Linked DNA regions of Homo sapiens: regions 2 and 3 are each linked to region 1. The links come from fine-mapping of genetic effects on gene expression. A gene starts in region 1. Each other region holds a variant in brackets. All regions are shown on one strand. Distances are from middle to middle.

What was found. PIP is the estimated chance that this variant, and not a neighbour inherited with it, causes the effect. A credible set is the group of variants that fine-mapping cannot tell apart.
Region 2: its variant is the best candidate, but not a certain one, in a credible set for the expression of WIPI1 in whole blood (TOPMed, PIP 0.74).
Region 3: its variant is the best candidate, but not a certain one, in a credible set for the expression of WIPI1 in thyroid (GTEx, PIP 0.89).

The regions. Positions count from the first base shown.
Region 1 is chr17:68,454,527-68,461,800 of GRCh38, forward strand. WIPI1 (WD repeat domain, phosphoinositide interacting 1) reads right to left here and starts at 2,970. Exons shown (of 13, transcript NM_017983.7): 1 at 2,816-2,970. The coding sequence starts at 2,895. It also overlaps a transcript of PRKAR1A not described here. RefSeq lists silencers at 2,710-3,389, 3,126-3,412.
Region 2 is chr17:68,411,504-68,418,777 of GRCh38, forward strand. All of the region lies in intron 11 of ARSG (arylsulfatase G), which reads left to right. It also overlaps a transcript of PRKAR1A not described here. Among named protein-coding and RNA genes, the nearest start is that of MIR635, 9.4 kb to the right of the region's middle. RefSeq lists enhancers at 1,618-2,276, 2,277-2,933, 2,429-2,478. The variant A/T (reference allele first, on the strand shown) is at 4,116.
Region 3 is chr17:68,426,174-68,431,173 of GRCh38, forward strand. It overlaps WIPI1 (WD repeat domain, phosphoinositide interacting 1), which reads right to left. Exons shown (of 13, transcript NM_017983.7): 9 at 3,823-3,987; 10 at 2,656-2,763; 11 at 962-1,080; 12 at 1-2. It also overlaps a transcript of ARSG not described here and a transcript of PRKAR1A not described here. Among named protein-coding and RNA genes, the nearest start is that of MIR635, 4.1 kb to the left of the region's middle. The variant C/T (reference allele first, on the strand shown) is at 2,609.

The DNA of each region.
Region 1 (7,274 bases):
GCTAAGTAGCTAAACTGGTGGGTTAGACATTTGCAGCTGTGCACTTAGAACTGGCATTTAGTACCTAGACTGAGGTATTCATGATGACAAACAGCAACTGGAAAAGTAAGCCCAGAGCATCTTAAAACTTCAAAATGTATTTTGTAGTGTTATTGTTTTTAAACTTTCTTCACATAAACTTTTTCACATAAATATAGATGTGTTTGGCTGCGAAATGAGGTTTGTAAAGTTTGCAAGTAAGGAAAGAAATACTGTAACTAGAGTCTTATAACATTAATGCAAAGTGACAGCAATTTAAAGTAATTTTCAAACATAAGCCCTGCTCCTGGACCAGAAGAATTCTACATATGAGAAAATCACAGAGTGATGTTTTATGTGATGTTTTACGTGATTGATCAATGGCCACAAAAGACTCTGAATCAAGGAATTTAGACTTAGACCTTATTTCATCCATAAAGTCTTTCTGTAGAAACAAAATTCTAATCACCACTCATGGAAACAGAGCTTGGGACAAATATTTATCATTAATCAAATTTAAAATGTACCCAAAGTAGGCTGGGCATAGTGTGTCACATCTGTAATCCCAGCATTTTGGGAGGCTGAGGTGGGTGGATCACTTGAGGTCAGGAGTTCAAGACCAAGCTGGGCAATGTGGCAAAACCCCGTCTCTACTAAAAATACAAAAAATTAGCTGAGTGTGGTGGTACACGTTTGTAATCCTAGCTACTTGAGAGGCTGAGACAGGAGAATCGCTTGAACCCTGGGAGGCAGAGGCTGCACTGAGCCAAGACCACACCACTGCACTCCAGCCTGGGTGACAGAGCAAGACTGTCTCAAAAAAAAAAAAAAAAAAAGTACCCAAAGTGTATAGCACAAGTACCAATCACGAAGTATGAGCGTAGGGGACTGGTAAGGGTTTGCTGTTTTCACCTACCTTCTTTGGAAATACTGGATCCCAAATTCAGCCTACATTTATAGAAAAAGACATGGCAATACACCTAAATGTATTCAGTAAGGGGCTTGACTTATTTTAAAATCCAATGTCATACCCTCTGTGGCTCAAAGCAACTGACTGTGACAAGAACTTTTATTTATAGGCAAGGCAAAGCTGCCCAGCAGAGCTTCCATCCAAGAAAATAAAACTAACAGTAGGGAGTAAGGAAATTAACTTTCAAAGCACCCTACCGTTTTGAAAATAACATTCTTATTCAATTTCTGTAGAAAGCTGGGACTTTGCGTTATTTAATGGCTAGAGTATAAATTAACACCCTTTTTTGTCAAATCTAATGATGTTACAAAGCAGAATTTAGAACATTTACTACTTACAAGCAAACTAACCCCCTTTCTTAACTTGTGTTCAATTGGGAAGGAAAACATCACCCAGGCATTTCAACAGCCATGCCCTCTTGCAAAATGTTTCTTACAGAACATCAGGATTTTATCTATACCAGCATTTTTATAAACTGCAGGTCTCAACTCATGAGTGGATCCTAAAACGCAATTCAGTGAGTCACAAGCAGCTTAGAAAAAAAGGACACAGAAAATTGCACATGATATTTTGTGAATAGTGTATGTGTTATGGGTATTGGGTGATGTTGCAATACATATTTCGTATTGTGGATTGTGGTCAAGAAAAACTTGAAAGTCACTCAAATAACCAAGCTGTAGAGCTACTCGATTACATGATTACACATATGGGTTTTTCAAACAAAGGCATATTGTTCAGCACCGGGTGTTTTTAAACAGAAACATAAAGGGAATGGAAGCCAGGGTGGCTAATGGTACATAATGGCCTTAATTACACCACTGAAGGATCAATATTAGCGTAGCTCAGTCACCAGCAGCCAAGGCACAGAAACTGGTACAGCAGGAAGTGGGAAACTGGGAATCGGTCATCCCCGCCTGATGCTCAGGGTGCACATTCCAAAAAGATGATTCCATATGGTCCCCAGGGCTCGCTTCCATGAAAATAGGGAAAGAAACAGGCGTTTGCCTGTAAGTCACAGAATCCTGCAGATGCCTGAAACACACTTCAGCCCAGCTCCCTCTCAAAGCCCAAATGTGAACATCGAAGTAAAACATTAAAAATCCACTCAAAAACAACAGGGTGGAGCTCCTGTTTCCTGGAGAGAAAGCAGTCTGCGCCCGGGAAAAGAGTCTTGGACTCCGAGAAGGAGATCCTGCCTGGCTGGGTGGGCGATGTGAAAACAGCCAAAGAAATCCAAAGGTTTCTTCCATCCAGAGCGGGCAGGCACGATGCCCTGCGTCGGGGATGGGACAGGGGCTGGCCTGGCCGCAGGGATAGGCTGCCTCTTTGTCCGAGGCCCTGCCCAGATGCCACGTTGAGATGCTCAAGGACAAATGGGAAAGTTTTTCCTGTACTCTCATCTTCCTGGGCCCCAACTACAGAGTCCTGGGTCAACTTGCAACTTCCTCTCCTTTCTCATCTCTTTCTTTTGGCCACTGTCTCTCTTCCCCAGACACCCACTTTGGTCACTGGCTTTCCCACCGCCCTGCTCCCCCCATATTCCGTGGCCCCCGCAGCCCCACCACTCCCTTTGCGAACTCCCTGCTTTCACCCTTGGCCCAACCTTGTCGCTCTGGGAGGACACTGGGAGTGGGGTGGGGTGGGGGGTGCGGCAAACCCCACTGAAGGGGTACGGGGATAACAAGATCCCAATGCGTCCGAAGCAGACACCGGCCCTCCCGCCGAGGCCGCCTCGAGGCGGAAGCCACAAGCTGCTCTCAGGACGACACCCCTGGGTCCTGACACTCTGTCCCCCACCTCCCTGGCAGGGGCCGAGTCGCAGCTTACGTGCAGTCCTGGTTGAAAGAGAAGCAGCTGAGCGCCGACTCAACCCCGCCCGGGGGAGCGTCCGCGGCCTCGGCCTCCATCGGGGGCTCGGCCCGGGAAGCCGCAGCTCGGAGCCGGCGACAGCCACCTCAGCAGCCCGCCCGCGCCGGCTCCACGGGCCGGGTCGCCGGTCCTGCCCCGCCCCTACCCCGCCCCGTCCCCACCCCGCCCCTACCCCGCCCCGTCCCCACCCCGCCCCTACCCCGCCCCGTCCCCGCCGCGTCCCCGGCTTCGCCCCGCCCCTTCTCGCCCCTCCAGCTGGTCCCGAGGACCAGAGCACCTGATAGGGCGGGGCCCCTGCCTCCGGCCACCATTGGCCACGAGCCCAAGCCACGGCTGGCGGGCACCGCCCCCCTTGGCCAATCCGTGGCAGCTGTGGGCGGACCCGCCCGGCTGGCGACCCGCCCCTGGCTTCGTAACGCGGCTCTCCATTGGACAAAGGCGCGTGACGCAAAGGCAGCAGGCCCACGTGGCGGTGTTTTCATTGCCGGAGCCGCCCAGCTGGGAGGGAGAGGGAAGAAGGAATGCGGCTGGGGCCAGATCTGCTGGTTTCAGTCCGGCAACTGCGTCGGGGCCGCCGCAAGGGTGACAGGAGGACGCGCTAGTTCCCACCCCGCCCAGACCCCTTGCCATGTGTAACTCTGCCTATTAAACTTACAGAGTTTAGCAGAGAGCGTTAGACTCCAAAGCCCCACCCTTTTGTCGAGTCCTCAAGCCGCATTGAGAGAAGCTCCTGAAATGGGGCTGCCTCAGCCAGAGAGATAGCAAGTTATCTTATCCATTGCCGAGCGGTTGAGAACCCTCACTACTTGCCAAGCGCGCCGTACTATGTATGTCATCTTGAATTCTTATAAAACTTGTGTGGAAAATACGATTGTGCTCAATATACAGAAGAGGCAACTGAAGCTCCAAAGCTAAACAATTTGTCTAAAGTAACAGTAAATGGTAGAATGTCTGCATGTCTGCTTTCAAGACCTGTGCACTAAATAACTGCTAAACAGTAATTTGCAAAAACAACGTAGCACCTAGCATGCGAGATTCTAGGTTTTCTAACCAGGACAGAAATGACTGCAGCATTTGACGGAGCTGGAAGGTGGGGGGAAGCACCTTTGATCTGAAAAGTTACAAAAATGGCACAAAGTATCTAAACAAGACCTATCCGATCCGCAGCTGAAAAAAATGAAAGTGTGTGTAGGGCAGTGTAGTTTATGAAAGGGGTAACGTCTTGAAGATATAGCACAATTCAAAACTCACGTAATTCGAGATAAACCTTAACAAAGAATCTCTTTTTAAAAGCTGAGTACTGTACATGTTCCCATGCGGAATTACTGTCAATACGGTTTATGAAGCAGGAGCTCTGCCAGCTTTGGATTGTATAACTGCTGATGGATTTTTAATTCATTTTTTCAAATTTTGAGATGATATTTTAGTTATTGTTATATGACAGTCTCTCAAATCAGCATAATTCAAATTTATTAGGTTGGTGCAAAAGTAATTGCGGTTTTCCCCATTTCCCACTTTTAATACCCAGTTTATGACAAAGCTACTTTTATGTATGTGTATATATATATATATTTAACCTTGGACCTACAATAGATGAACAAAGGGCACTATTTCACCTAAACCTTTCTGGTTGGATTTCCGGTTTGTGTTTTCTGAGATGCAAATGTAACAGTTTCTTTTCTCAACTTTATTATTTTTTTCTCTCCACTGATGTAAAAAATAGTTCAGCTCATAGATTCACAGATGTTATTGCTCTTTGGCTGATTGTGAGGTGTTGTATAAACTATCAGAAGTGAATGGAACTGCTGTTTAGATACTTTGTGCCATTTTTGTAACCTTTCAGATCAAAGGTGCTTCCCCCCACCTTCCAGCTCTGTCAAATGCTGCAGTCATTTCTGTCCTGGTTAGAAAACCTAGAATCTGGCATGCTAGGTGCTACGTTGTTTGGAGAATTACATGAAGTGTACCATAAAGTTTTTAAAGTGTAAGCTGTTATTATCAGTTTGTTATTAAGAGTTTGGACTTTATGGGATAGACCTGGGAGCTGGTGTTAGTTTTTGAGCAGGAGTGTTTCATGATAAAAAAGCAGTGTCTTTGTCAGATAAACTTGGCCAGGGTGTGCAGAACAAATTAGAAGTGGGAAAAGATCTAGAAGTCTTTAGGGGACTAATGTGAAATTCTGGAAGTAAAGGGACAGGAGAGACTAGGCTAAAGTGATGAAAACAAGGCCAGAAAATTAGACCAAATCATAGAGTTGTTTTCAGGCATTGCTGTCCAGTAGATAAAATGAGCCCCAAATGTGAACTCCACATTGTAAATTTCAGTTTTCTAGAAGATACATTTAAAAAGGTAGAAATAGGCAAATTAATTGGAATAATATCATTTATTTAATCCAATGTGTCAAAAATATCATTTCAATATAAAGATAATCAATATAAAGTTACTAATCAGTTAATTCAGGTTTTAATTTTTTTTTTTTTTGAGACAGAGTCTTGCTCTGTCACCAGGCTCACTGCAACCTCTCCATCCCGGGTTCAAGCGATTCTCCTGCCTCAGCCTCCCAAGCAGCTGGGACTTCAGGCCCCCGCCACCATGCCCAGCTAATTTTTGTATTTTTAATACAGACGGGATTTCACCATGTTGGTCAGGCTGGTCTCACACTCCTGACCTCATGATCCACCTGCCTCAGCCTCCCAAAGTGCTGGGATTACAGGCGTGAGCCACCACGCCTGGCCTCAGATTTTAATTTTTTTTTAGAACTAAATATTGAATATCCGGTGTGTATTTTTCACTTACACCATATCTCAGTTCACATGAGCCACATTTTAAGTGTTCATGTAGCTGGTGGCTACTTTATTCTCAGTAGAGTCTTGAGGGACTAAATGACAGGCATGGCAACTGATGGGGAAGGGGGAGGGGCAGGGAAGAAGAGGGAAGAGTCAAAGCTGATTTCATGGTTGGGAAGGGGAAGCCCATTGGGTTGCTTTTAGAAACTAGATCTTCAGTCAGGTATTCAGGAAGTTGTATTTCATTTCAGACACTTTAAATCAGCAGCAGAACTGCATGCTTACTGGAATCAAGGTTTGGATCTAGAGCTATGGCCACGGGAGAAAAATGGTCACCTTCCCAGCCTCAGCCTTTCCTGTGAATGGTCCCCCTTATATGTTTCTTTCCAGGCTAATGGTCCATTATGGCACCAGCCATGTGGAAATAACATCTCAGGGCTGCCTCATCTGATTTCATTTTTCCCAAGACAATATGTAAGTCTGTATTTTTATATAAATCTGTGCCTATTTTATTAAAAACCTGTATTTGTAGGTAAATTTAAAAAATGATGAAAACTAATTCTTATTTTCAAAAAGTACCTCATAAGCTAAACTAAATACATCAGCTAGCTGGATGTGGTTTGTGGAGGGCTGGTTTGTGATTTCTGTTAGAGGTGTAAGCAGCCACTTTGAAGAGCTCCACCCTCAAAAAATTTCCCAGAAGTCCATTCATATAAAAAGCCAAGGGCAAGGTTATAAATAACTTAAGAGGTGCTGAATCCATTTAATGTCAGGCTGGTTTTTCTTTTTTAACATTCTAGTTCTGGGTTCTGTGGGAGAGGACACTCTTGATTTGAATGTTGGGCTTATGGGCAACCTAAGTCTTACAAGTTCTTGCAACAGCAATTTCACTACTAAATAACATCAGCAAAAGATAATGGGGTAGGTGGGGCAGGGGACAATGCTTTGTTCCAGTGGGAATAAGATTTTGGCCTTTCTCTTTCTTTCAACTGAAATTCCTAAATGTCTATCTTTTCCCTGAAAAACAAAACAAACAAACAAACAAAAAACTCCATTATTTCTAGGAAAACTTACTCGTAAGTAACTAGTAAGTTACTTACCAGTCAGCAAAATCTGGGAAAATAAAGCTGGGCTCTGGGAATTAAAAACATGTTTGGTAATACAAAATTGCAGGCCACAGTTCATCTAATGGAGAGACTTCTTATTTGTATAACAATCAGGTTGTAATTTTAAAATGCTGATTAGGGCATGCACAGGGCATTCACAGGGGAAGGTGGAAATGAGACATCCTGTCTGATGCAACACTCCTGTCACCCCATATGGTCATTCATGGCACCCAACCATCTACAATTAAAGTAACTACTAGGTGAACAAACACCACTCCTGTCCTATTCTTCTTTTTATAAAGTCCATTCTATTTTTATAAAATCAAGTTACAGGAAATAATCTCCTTTCTCTTTTCTGCTATGGGGCAACACTCAGAACATGAACTGAGAACGAGTTGAACTCTAATGGACCAGTGTATGGTAGCCCTTTGAGAAAGGGTAAAGGAGGAAGGGCCCTGGGACAATGGAGCCAAGAGGGAGAGGGAGGGAAGGGCGATGTGTCAGTACGTGGAGGAAGCTCAAGGA
Region 2 (7,274 bases), 43 kb before region 1:
TCTGTTCTTTTACATTTGCTGAGGAGAGCTTTACTTCCAAGTATGTGGTCTATTTTGGAATAGGTGTGGTGTGGTGCTGAAAAAAATGTATATTCTGTTGATTTGGGGTGGAGAGTTCTGTAGATGTCTGTTAGGTCCGCTTGGTGCAGAGCTGAGTTCAATTCCTGGGTATCCTTGTTGACTTTCTGTCTTGTTGATCTGTCTAATGTTGACAGTGGGGTGTTAAAGTCTCCCATTATTAATGTGTGGGAGTCTAAGTCTCTTTGTAGGTCACTCAGGACTTGCTTTATGAATCTGGGTGCTCCTGTATTGGGTGCATATATATTTAGGATAGTTAGCTCTTCTTGTTGAATTGATCCCTTTACCATTATGTAATGGCCTTGTCTCTTTTGATCTTTGTTGGTTTAAAGTCTGTTTTATCAGAGACTAGGATTGCAACCCCTGCCTTTTTTTGTTTTCCATTTGCTTGGTAGATCTTCCTCCATCCTTTTATTTTGAGCCTATGTGTGTCTCTGCAGGTGAGATAGGTTTCCTGAATACAGCACACTGATGGGTCTTGACTCTTTATCCAATTTGCCAGTCTGTGTCTTTTAATTGGAGCATTTAGTCCATTTACATTTAAAGTTAATATTGTTACATGTGAATTTGATCCTGTCATTATGATGTTAGCTGGTTATTTTGCTCGTTAGTTGATGCAGTTTCTTCCTAGTCTCGATGGCCTTTACATTTTGGCATGATTTTGCAGTGGCTGGTACCGGTTGTTCCTTTCCATGTTTAGTGCTTCCTTCAGGAGCTCTTTTAGGGCAGGCCTGGTGGTGACAAAATCTCTCAGCATTTGCTTGTCTGTAAAGTATTTTATTTCTCCTTCACTTATGAAGCTTAGTTTGGCTGGATATGAAATTCTGGGTTGAAAATTCTTTTCTTTGAGAATGTTGAATATTGGCCCCCACTCTCTTCTGGCTTGTAGAGTTTCTGCCGAAAGATCCACTGTTAGTCTGATGGGCTTCCCTTTGAGGGTAACCTGACCTTTCTCTCTGGCTGCCCTTAACATTTTTTCCTTCATTTCAACTTTGGTGAATCTGACAATTATGTGTCTTGGAGTTGCTCTTCTTGAGGAATATCTTTGTGGCGTTCTCTGTATTTCCTGAATCTGAATGTTGGCCTGCCTTGCTAGATTGGGGAAGTTCTCCTGGATAATATCCTGCAGAGTGTTTTCCAACTTGGTTCCATTCTCCCCGTCACTTTCAGGTACACCAATCAGACGTAGATTTGGTTTTTTCACATAGTCCCATATTTCTTGGAGGCTTTGCTCATTTCTTTTTATTCTTTTTTCTCTAAACTTCCCTTCTCGCTTCATTTCATTCATTTCATCTTCCATCGCTGATACCCTTTCTTCCAGTTGATCGCACCGGCTCCTGAGGCTTCTGCATTCTTCACGTAGTTCTCAAGCCTTGGTTTTCAGCTCCATCAGCTCCTTTAAGCACTTCTCTGTATTGGTTATTCTAGTTATACATTCTTCTAAATTTTTTTCAAAGTTTTCAACTTCTTTGCCTTTGGTTTGAATGTCCTCCCATAGCTCAGAGTAATTTGATCGTCTGAAGCCTTCTTCTCTCAGCTCGTCAAAGTTATTCTCTGTCCAGCTTTGTTCCGTTGCTGGTGAGGAACTGCGTTCCTTTGGAGGAGGAGAGGCGCTCTGCTTTTTAGAGTTTCCAGTTTTTCTGCTCTGTTTTTTCCCCATCTTTGTGGTTTTATCTACGTTTGGTCTTTGATGATGGTGATGTACAGATGGGTTTTTGGTGTGGATGTCCTTTCTGTTTGTTAGTTTTCCTTGTAACAGACAGGACCCTCAGCTGCAGGTCTGTTGGAGTACTGGGCCCTGTGAGGTGTCAGTCTGCCCCTGCTGGGGGGTGCCTCCCAGTTAGGCTGCTCGGGGGTCAGGGACCCACTTGAGGAGGCAGTCTGCCCGTTCTCAGATCTCCAGCTGCGTGCTGGGAGAACCACTGCTCTCTTCAAAGCTGTCAGACAGGGACATTTAAGTCTGCAGAGGTTACTGCTGTCTTTTTGTTTGTCTGTGCCCTGCCCCCAGAGGTGGAGCCTACAGAGGCAGGCAGGCCTCCTTGAGCTGTGGTGGGCTCCACCCAGTTCGAGCTTCCCGGCTGCTTTGGTTACCTAATCAAGCCTGGGCAATGGCAGGCGCCCCTCCCCCAGCCTCGCTGCCGCCTTGCAGTTTGATCTCAGACTGCTGTGCTAGCAATCAGCGAGACTCCGTGGGCGTAGGACCCTCCGAGCCAGGTAAGGGATGTAATCTCCTGGTGCGCCGTTTTTTAAGCCTGTCGGAAAAGCGCAGTATTCGGGTGGGAGTGACCCGATTTTCCAGGTGCCGTCTGTCACCCCTTTCTTTGACTAGGAAAGGGAACTCCCTGACCCCTTGAGCTTCCCGAGTGAGGCAATGCCTCGTCCTGCTTCGGCTCGCGCACGGTGCGCGCACCCACTGACCTGCGCCCACTGTCTGGCACTCCCTAGTGAGATGAACCCGGTACCTCAGATGGAAATGCAGAAATCACCCGTCTTCTGCGTCGCTCAACGCTGGGAGCTGTAGACCGGAGCTGTTCCTATTCGGCTATCTTGGCTCCTCCCCCTGGCTGTGGGTTTCTTATAGATGGCTTTTATTACATTGAGGTATGTCCCTTGTATGCCGATTTTGCTGAGTTTTAATCATAAAGCGATGCTGGATTTTGTCAAATGCTTTTACTGCATCTATTGAGATGACCATGTGATTTTTGTTTTTAATTCTGTTTATGTGGTGTATCACATTTATTGACATATCACATTTATTGGTATATGTTAAACTATCCTTGCATCCCTGGTATGAAACCCCCTTGATTATGGTGAATTATCTTTTTGATATGTTGTTGGATTCAGTTAGCTAGTATTTTGTTAAGGATTTTAGCATCTATGTTCATGAGGGATATCAGTCTGTAGTTTTCTTTTTTGGTTATGTCCTTTCCTGGTTGTAGTATTAGGGTGATTCTGGCTTCATAGAATGAATTAGGGAGGGTTCCCTCTTTGTCATGTGGAATAGTGTCAAAAGGGTTGGTACCAATTCTTCTTTGAATGTCTGGTGGAATTCTGCTGTGGATCCATCTGGTCCTAGACTTTTGTTGTTGTTGTTGTTGGTAATTTAAAAATTACCATTTTAATCTCGCTGCTTGTTATTGGTTTGTTCAGGGTATCTAATTCTTCCTGATTTAAGCTAGGAGGGTTGTATTTTTCCAGGAATTTATCCATCTCTTCTAGGTTTTTTAGTTTAAATGCAAAGGTGTTCATAGTAGCCTTGAATGATCTTTTGTATTTTTGTGATGTCTGTTGTAATATCTCCTGTTTTGTTTCTTATTGAGTTTATTTGGATTTTCTCTCTTCTTTTCTTGGTTAATCTTGCTAACAGCATATCAATTTTATTCATATTTTCAAAGAACCAGCTTTGTGTTTCATTTATCTTTTTTATTTTTTTGTTTCAATTTCATTTAGTTCTGCTCTGATCTTGGTTATTTCCTTTTGTCTGCTGGGTTTTGTTTGTTCTTGTTTCTCTAGTTCCTTGAGGTATGACCTTAGAATGTCAGTTTGTGCTCTTTCAGTCTTTTTGATGTAGGCATTTAAGGCTATGAACTTTCCCCTTAGCCCCTCCTTTGCTGTATCCCAGAGGTTTTGATAGGTTGTGTCACTATTATTCAGTTTGAAGAACTTTTAAATTTCCATCTTGATTTCATTTTTGACTCAATGATCATTTAGGAGCAGGTTATATAATTTCCATGTATTTGCATGGTTCTGAAGGTTCCTTTGGAATGGATTTCCAGTTTTATTCCACTGTGGTCTGAGAGAGTGCTTGATATAATTTCAATTTTCTTAAATTTATTGAGGCTCATTTTGTGGCCTATTGTATGGTCTGTCTTGGAGAAAGTTCCATGCACTACTGAATAGAATGTGTATTCTGCAGTTGTTGGTTGGAATGTTCTGTATATATCTGTTAAGTCCATTTGTTACAAGGTATAGTTTAAATCCATTGTTTCTTTGTTGACTTTCTTTCTTGATGACCTGTCTAGTGCTGTCAGTGGAGT[A/T]TTGAAGTCCCCCACTATTATTGTGTTGCCGTCTATCTCATTTCTTACGTTATTAGTAATTATTTTATAAATTTGGGAGCTCCAGTGTTAGGAGCATATATGTTTAGGATTGTGATGTTTTCCTGTTGGACACGGCCTTTTACCATTGTATAATGTCTCTGTCTTTTTTAACTGCCGTTGCTTTAAAGTTGGTTTTGTCTGATATAAGATAGCTACCCCTGCTTACTTTTGGTGTTCATTTGCATGAAATATCTTTTTCTACCCCTTTACTTTAAATGTATGCGAGTCCTTATATGTTAGATGAGTCTCCCGAAGGCAGCAGATGGTTGGTTGGTGATCTTATCCATTCTGCTGTTTTGTATTTTTTTAAGTGGAGCATTTAGACCATTTACATTCAGTGTTAATATTGAGATGTGAAGTACCATTCCATTCCTCATGCTATTTGTTGCCCATGTGCCTTGGTTTTTTTGTTTTTGCTTTTCAAATTGTATTTTTGTTTTATAGGTCCTGTGAGCTTTATGCTTTAAAGAGGTTCCATTTTGATGTGTTTCCAGGATTTGATTCAAGATTTAGAGCTCCTTTTAGCAGTTCTTGTAGTGGTGACTTGGTAGTGGTGAATTTTCTCAGCATTTGTTTGTATCCTTCTTTCATATATGACGCTTATTTTTGCTGGATACAGAATTCTTGGCTGATAATTGTTTTGATGGAGGAGGCTGAAGATATGGCCCCAGTCCTTTCTAGCTTGTAGGGTATCTGCTGTTAATCCTGATAGGTTTTCCTTTATAGGATACCTGGTATTTTTGTCTCATGTTTTTCTTTATAGGTTACCTGGTGATGTTTTTGCAATGAATTTCCCAGGTGTTCTTTGAGCTTCTTGTATTTGGATGTCTAGGTTTCTAGCAAGGCCAGGGAAGTTTTCCTTGATTATTCCCCCAAATATGTTTTCCAAACTTTTAGATTTCTCTTCTTCCTCAGGAACACCAATTATTCTTAGATTTGGTCGTTTAACATAATCCCAGCCTTCTTGGAGGCTTTGTTCATATTTTCTTATTCTTTTTCCTTTGTCTTTGTTGGATTGGGTTAAGTCAAAGACCTTGTCTTCGAGCTCTGAATTTCTTTCTTCTACTTGTTCAATTCTATTGCTGAGACTTTCCAGAGCATTTTGCATTACTAGAAGTATGTCCAATGTTTCCTGATGTTTTAACTGTTTTTTCTTTATTCTATCTATTTCCTTGAATATTTCTCCCTTCACTTCTTGTATTGATTTTTGGATTTCCTTGCATTGGGCTTCACCTTTCTCTGGTGCCTCCCTAATTAGCTTAATAACTAACCTCCTGAATTCTTTTTCAGGTTAATCAGGGATTTTTTTCTTGGTTTGGATCCATTGCTGGTGAGCTAGTGTGATTTTTTGGGGAGTGTCAAAGAGCCTTGTTTTGTCATATTAATTACCAGAGTTGGTTTTCTGGTTCCTTCTCATTTGGGTAGGTTATTATTAAGTCTTAGTAGTTTTGGTGAGCCTGGGCCCTTGGACTGTGAACTTCACAAGTGCTTCTTAGTCTATCCCTTCCCTCCCCTTAGGTGGAACAGCTAGAGTGGCTAGAGCTGGGTATCCCCCTACCCTTAGGTCAGTTAGGCTGTGAGAAAAACCTAAGTAATTTAAGCTCTGGTAAATTAGTTTCTCCTGAGGGCAGGCCTTGTTAAGAAAACTAGAATGTTTTGGTATATTTAAAAATTACTTTTCTCCTACCCCTTTTGGAAGGATGAAGAGATTTTTCTCCAGTATTTACTGTAAGAACTTGGTTGAGCTCCTGGAGGTAAAACTCACAAAAGTGTGTTGTGTTTTGGGTGCCGCGGTGGGGGGTGGCGCTTGATAACTGGGCCCCACTGGAGTTTTTCATCTCTCAGACTTGTCCACACTGAGCCTCCAGCAATTTGTCAATTACAGTTCAGGGCTTCCCTACTCCTGGCACTGGTTCTTGCAGAGGTTTCTGCTTGTGGGTTTCTGCTCTGTTAAGTTGTGATTGTTTCTATTTGCTTGTCTGTCTCTCTAATTTTGGGGGCAGTAGTTTGCCCTGTGACTTCACTTCTCCAAAAGACCTAATAAGAGTTGCTGAATTTTTTTTTTTTTTTTTTTTTTTTTTTTTTTTGAGATGGAGTCTCACATTGTTGCCTGGGCTGGAGTGCAGTGGCACGATCTCGGCTCCCAGGTTCACGTGGTTCTCCTGCCTCAGCCTCCCAGGTAGCCGGGATTACAGGTGCCCACCACCATGCCCAGATAATTTTTTATATTTTTAGTAGAGACGGGGTTTTACCATGTTGGCCAGACTGGTCTCAAACTCCTGACCTCATGATCCGCCTGCCTCAACCTCCCAAACTGCTGGGATTACAGGCGTGAGCCACCACACCCGGCTGAGTTGTTGATTTTTTAGTTTGTTCAGCTTTTTACTTGTTAGAATGAAGTGATGACTGCCGACCTCCTTATGTGCCAGACTAGAAACTGGGAGTCTCCTATTTAGTCGTCCTTAAAAATTGTAAGCTGGACATTGTTGGTGATGCATTGTAGCAATTCTGATTTCTGTTACCTGAGAGTGTTGATTTTTGTTTTCACTGGCAGCTAATCAGTAGTCAGTTCCCTTGAACTTATAAAGCCTTAGTTTTACACTTTGTTAGGACGAGTCTTTCAGATTTTTCCCTTGATCTTAGGCAGATCCCTCAGTCCTGGGACACAGTCTCTACTCCTAGCATGAACTGTTTGTCAAAGCTCATGTCACTGCCCTGTACTGGCAATGAAGAATAATCAAATTCTATTCCAAACTGTAGGCAAAGACAACAACTATTAATCTCTACTGATCAACTTGACTCTCAGCCACAGGTGGAAAACCAGTAATAAAAAAGGGTTGTCTAAAGGCTTTGAGATCTACCCATTCTCCTAAATATTTCAAATTTTATTTCTGGCCAGATTGGACCAGAAGGCTGAATCCTTAGGTGGTATGGCTTTGCCCCTATAGACTTCCTTGTATTGAGTTGCATGTTGGCATCTGCCCTCATCATATAGTAAAGGATGTGATAAGAAGTCGTCAGTGGAACCATCCTAATCTCAGTTTTATTTTTCATAAGAATGCCAGTGAGCATTCCATCCTACAGGGTCCCCTGTAGGAG
Region 3 (5,000 bases), 29 kb before region 1:
ACCTGGAAACCAAGAAAGAGACATGAAACAAGCACTGGGGATCTGCTTTTATGCCATGACCTGGCGGGTGGGGAGCGGGGGCTCAAATAAAGGGCAAAGGAAGCAAAGGGGCTGTCTGTCTTCCCCCTGGAGGTACTGTGCCTAGGACAAGTCATAATCCTCACCATCTGCCATCTTTAAGCCTGACCTGCCTTTCCACTTCAGATGCCTGAGGCATCCTACCTCTTTGAATTTTTCTTTGTTGAGGTAGGGTCTCAGTATGTTGCCCAGGCTGGTCTCGAACTCCTGAGCCTAAGGGATCCTTCTGCCTCAATTTAACTTCCTGAGTGGCTAGGACTACAGGCTCTTTGGAAATTTTAGTTTAGTTTTTATTTTTTGAAACAGAGTCTCACTCTTTCACCCAGGCTGGAGTGCAGTGGTATGATCTCAGCTCACTGCAATCTCCGCCTCTCTGGTTCAAGCAATTCTCCTGCCTCAGCCTCCGGAGTAGCTGGGATTGCAAGTGTGTGCCAACATGCCCAGCTAATTTTTCTATTTTTTAAGTAGAGATGGGGTTTCACCATGTTGGCTAGGCTGGTCTCAAACCCCTGGCCTCCAGTGATCCGCTGGCCTCAGCCTCCCAAAGTGCTGGGATTACAGGTGTGAGCCAATGTGCCTGGCCTCATTGGAATTTTTGAAGAGGCAAAGGGTTAACACCACTTGTTAGGAAAAAGACCGTATCGTGTGATGCCTTGCCAGGTTGAGGGTCCCAGGTTTAAAGGCTATTACCATGGCCTCACCTGTGAGAAAATAAAAAATTCAAGGAGAGCACTCCACCCCCAGGTAACAGTGAAGGGGGAAGGGGAGGGAGGGCACTCCACCCCCAGGTAACAGTGAAGGGGGAAGGGGAGGGAGCGTGCAGGGAGAAGGGGAGGGAGGTCACTGTTGGAGATGCTCCCCTGTTGGCCCCGTGTCCACCCACCTGGCACCGTGGAGGCTGAAGATGCACTTGGTCTGGCTACGGTCGCTGCATAAGACTGAGGTAAGGAAGGTCTGAGGTCATTTTCTTTATTCTCTTCTGTTGTTCCTGAGCCAAGCAAGCTACTTGTGACAATCAAGAGGAGGTGAAAGAAAAAAGAAATCATCATATATCTAGGACACCTTCCAAAGGAAAAGCATGAAGAAGCCTGTGCTCAGCTCTGTGGGTTATTTATTTATTTTTGAGGCAGGGTCTTGCTCTATTGCCCAGGCTGGAGTGCAGTGGCGCAATCTCGGCTCACTGCAACCTCCGCCTCCTGGGTTCAAGCGATTCTCCTGCCTCAGCCTCCCGAGTAGCTGCGACTACAGGCACCCACCACAGCGCCTGGCTAATTTTTGTATTTTTAGTAGAGACTGGGTTTCACCATGTTGGCCAGGCTGGTCTCGAACTCCTGACCTCAGGTGATCCGCCCGCCAACTCTGTGGGTTTAAATTGTAGACCTACCCACACGCTGCTGGGCCAGGATGAGCTGAAGTGACCTGCAACTGCCAGGGGCAGTCACACACCGTCAAAATGGCCTCTTTCTCTTACATTGGCTAGACAAAGATTAGTCCTCTGCTCTTCCCAGTACACACAGGTGAGGACATGCTAGCAAGGAGAGCAGCCATCGGTGGGGGGCGGTGGCAGCTCTGGTGCCCTGGCCACAGCAGGAGAGCTCAGTCTGTGCCTGTTCACAGAAGGCATGAGTGCTTTTCTTTTGTTTTCTTTTCTTTTTTGAGACAGGGTCTCACTCTGTTGCCCAGGCTGCAGTGCAGTGGTGTGACCACAGCTTACTGCAGTCTTGACCTTCCTGGGCTCAGGTGATCCCCCCACCTCTGCCTCCCAAGTAGCTGGGACTACAAGGCATGTACCACCATGCCTGGCTAATTTTTATATTTTTTCTTTTTGTAAGGATGGGGTTTCACCATGTTTCTCAGGCTGGTCTCAAACTCCTGAGCTCAAGCCATCCGCCCTCCTTGGCCTCCCAAAGTATTGGGATTACAGGCGTGAGTCAACATGACTGGTAGAGCACTTTTCAATTCCATGCAGGGAATAGGTTTTTTTTTTTTTTTATTTTGAGACAGGGTCTCACTCTGTTGTCCAGGCTGGAGTGCAATGGTGTGATCATGGCTCACTGCCTCAACCTCTCCAGGCTCAGGTGATTCTCCCACCTCAGCCTCCTGAGTAGCTGGGACTACAGGTGTGTGCCACCACAACCGGCTAATTTTTGTATTTGTTTTTGGTATAGATGGGGTTTCACCATGTTGCCCAGGCTGGTCTTGAACACCTGGACTCAAGCCATCCACCCGCTTCGGCCTCCCAAAGTGCCGGGATTACAGGTGTGAGCCGCCACACCTGGTGGCAGGGAATATTTTTGAACACCCACTGTGAGCTCAGGGCTGTGTTAGGAGCATAGGCTGAGGGGGAGACCATCTTGTGTGTTATTAATCCTGGCACTTTTCCAGATGATTACCACATGCTGAGGGCACCTGACACAGAGCCCGGTGCAGAGCACTTGCCCACTAGAGGTTTGCCACTGAGACTGCCAGTGAAGAACAAATCAATGCAAGGGCACTGAAGCTTGTCGTTCTTGGCGAAGGGACAACTCTA[C/T]ACGACCAGCTCTCGAAAGGCTGTCTTTTGAAAAGCAGTCTCTTCACCTGTGGGTTTTGATTAAGACACACTCTCCTCCATCCTGAGGATCCAAATTGTACATATAAAGGTGTCCACTGGATGACGCAACTAGCAGCCGTGGCAACTTCTGGATCCTAAGGGCCAAGGAAAACATAAACCGTGATGACAACGAAGATGGGCGATGGATTCGCTTCCAATGACAAAGCCCCCCTCACCCTAGCTGTCACCAGATTCTGCCTTTGACAAACCCTTAGCCCACTGATCTGGTCTGGGCTTCTGGCTATTCCTTTGCATTCTGGCCTTGGGATCTACTTTCAGGATTATTTCTTGTCTTTGAACGTGACAGTGTGGATGAGGCAAGTGAGTGTAGATGCTGCGACCCTGCGAGAAGCAATAGCTAGTGAACACATTAGCTCCCTACATGGGACGCAGTCTCCCTCTGACATGTGTCTCTGCCCTTAACCAAGACAGAAAGGGGGTAAATGGAGGATTGGCTTACTGTCTTTGCTGGTTAGTTTTGTGAAATTTTAAAAATGTTCAACTTTTGAATAAACTCCTTTAAACTTCTTAAAACATCTGTCAGCCCCATAGGAGTCCGAACCTAGAAAACAGATCTGGAGGCTTTTTACATAATTACATAAAAATAAGAATTGTTTTTAAGACAGTGTCATTATAACCAGAAGGCTAAAATTCCCATGCCAACTTCTGGCTGCCCCCTGAGAATCCGTATTGAAGTCAGATAGGAAAAGCAGGGGTTTGATTCCGCTCACCCTTCCTTTGGGGCAAGTTTTCTTTTTCTTTTTTGAGATGGAGTCTTGCTCTGTCGCCCAGGCTGGAGTGCAGTGGCATGATCTCGGCTCACTGCAACCTCCGCCTCCTGGGTTCAAGCGATTCTCCTGCCCCAACCTCCCAAGTAGCTGGGACTACAGGCACGCACCACCATACCCGGCTAATTTTTGTATTTTTAGTAGAGACGGGATTTCACCACGTTGGCCAGGCTGGTCTCAAACTCCTGACCTCAGATGATCTGCCTGCCTTGGCCTCCCAAGGTTCCGGGATTACAGATGTAAGCCACCGTGCCCAGCCTGGGGCAAGTTTTCTTTTTTTCTTTTCAGGTTTGGGGATTTTTGTGCTTTGGAAAAATACATTGACGAAAGTGTGGTCTTGTTCAGAGTGGGTGTCATTGTACGTACGTTGAGAGGGTACAGATGTTCCTCTGTCCGGAGAAGTTCAAGCGTGCAGTGGCAAAAGCCCTGTCCTGATGCATCATGTCTGACACCTGGGTAGGGAGGTAGTTGGTAGCAGCCATAAACATCTTTCCCATGTAGCCACTCCAGGTCGAAGGCTCTTCTGGTCGACTAGGGAGTAATGCACAGGCAACGATGGGACTGGGCTGCAGGCCCCACACGCACCCAGGAATCTCCACACCCAAGCGTCATTAGCCACACTCCCCGCAGCAGGGAGAGACTGTGCCTTAGCATAATGTTCTGCCCACTGAGAACAATCCAGGACGTATTATTCTGGCAATAACTAAAGAGCATCAAGGGCTTGTTTGTTCTTCAGAAGAGCCATTGTAAAGCTGTTAAAAGGTTCCCAATGCTACTGCTTTCCCCTATTAAAGAAGGCTTATCTGATGACTAGTCTGATTCCTAGATTTCCAGAAGAGAGTTAGGGTAGAGAGTGAGATGGACTTGATATCCAGGTACCATTAAATAAGCTTGGGACTGTGCCGGGCTCATGGAAGAACAGACAGATCTCAACGTGAAGGCCTCCTGAGCCAGACTGAGTGGGTAGCAAACCTCCGGGCAAGACACTTTGGGTGGTGTTTGATTGTAGATAACCCTGGAGTCACCCAGGTACCCAGCATGTGTAATGATGGAGATCATGCAAAGGGACCTGGGATGTCGCCTACAGTCATGGAACTTCATCCCAAGGCCTCTGCCAGACAAAGGGGGTGACTGTTCTGTTGGTGAGAGACAACCCCCAGCTCTGCCCCACACAGAGGGTGGCACATTGAGAACCAAGGTTGCCATATGAGTTCCCAGGAGCAGGCAACTGCTGAGAGGCTGCTTGTCTGCAGGATTAGGTCCTGGTGGGAAGCTCGCCCTGCAGCTCAGAGCTCTGGGAGGTATTCTTTACTATGCTACCAATGGGCTAGGGGGTCTTTGGACAAACCTCTCTGGGCCTTCATGTTCTCATCTGAAAGTGACTATGCTAGGTGCACTGCTAGGGTTCTGTGATCCGAAGCATCCTGAGACATCCTTGTACTGTCTGTCCCACAGCCCTGTGCTCCGGGCTGGGGTTTACAAAGAGGTGTACGATCCAGACCCTGCATTCCAGATTGAGAGAGCACGGGTGTATACAAAGAAAA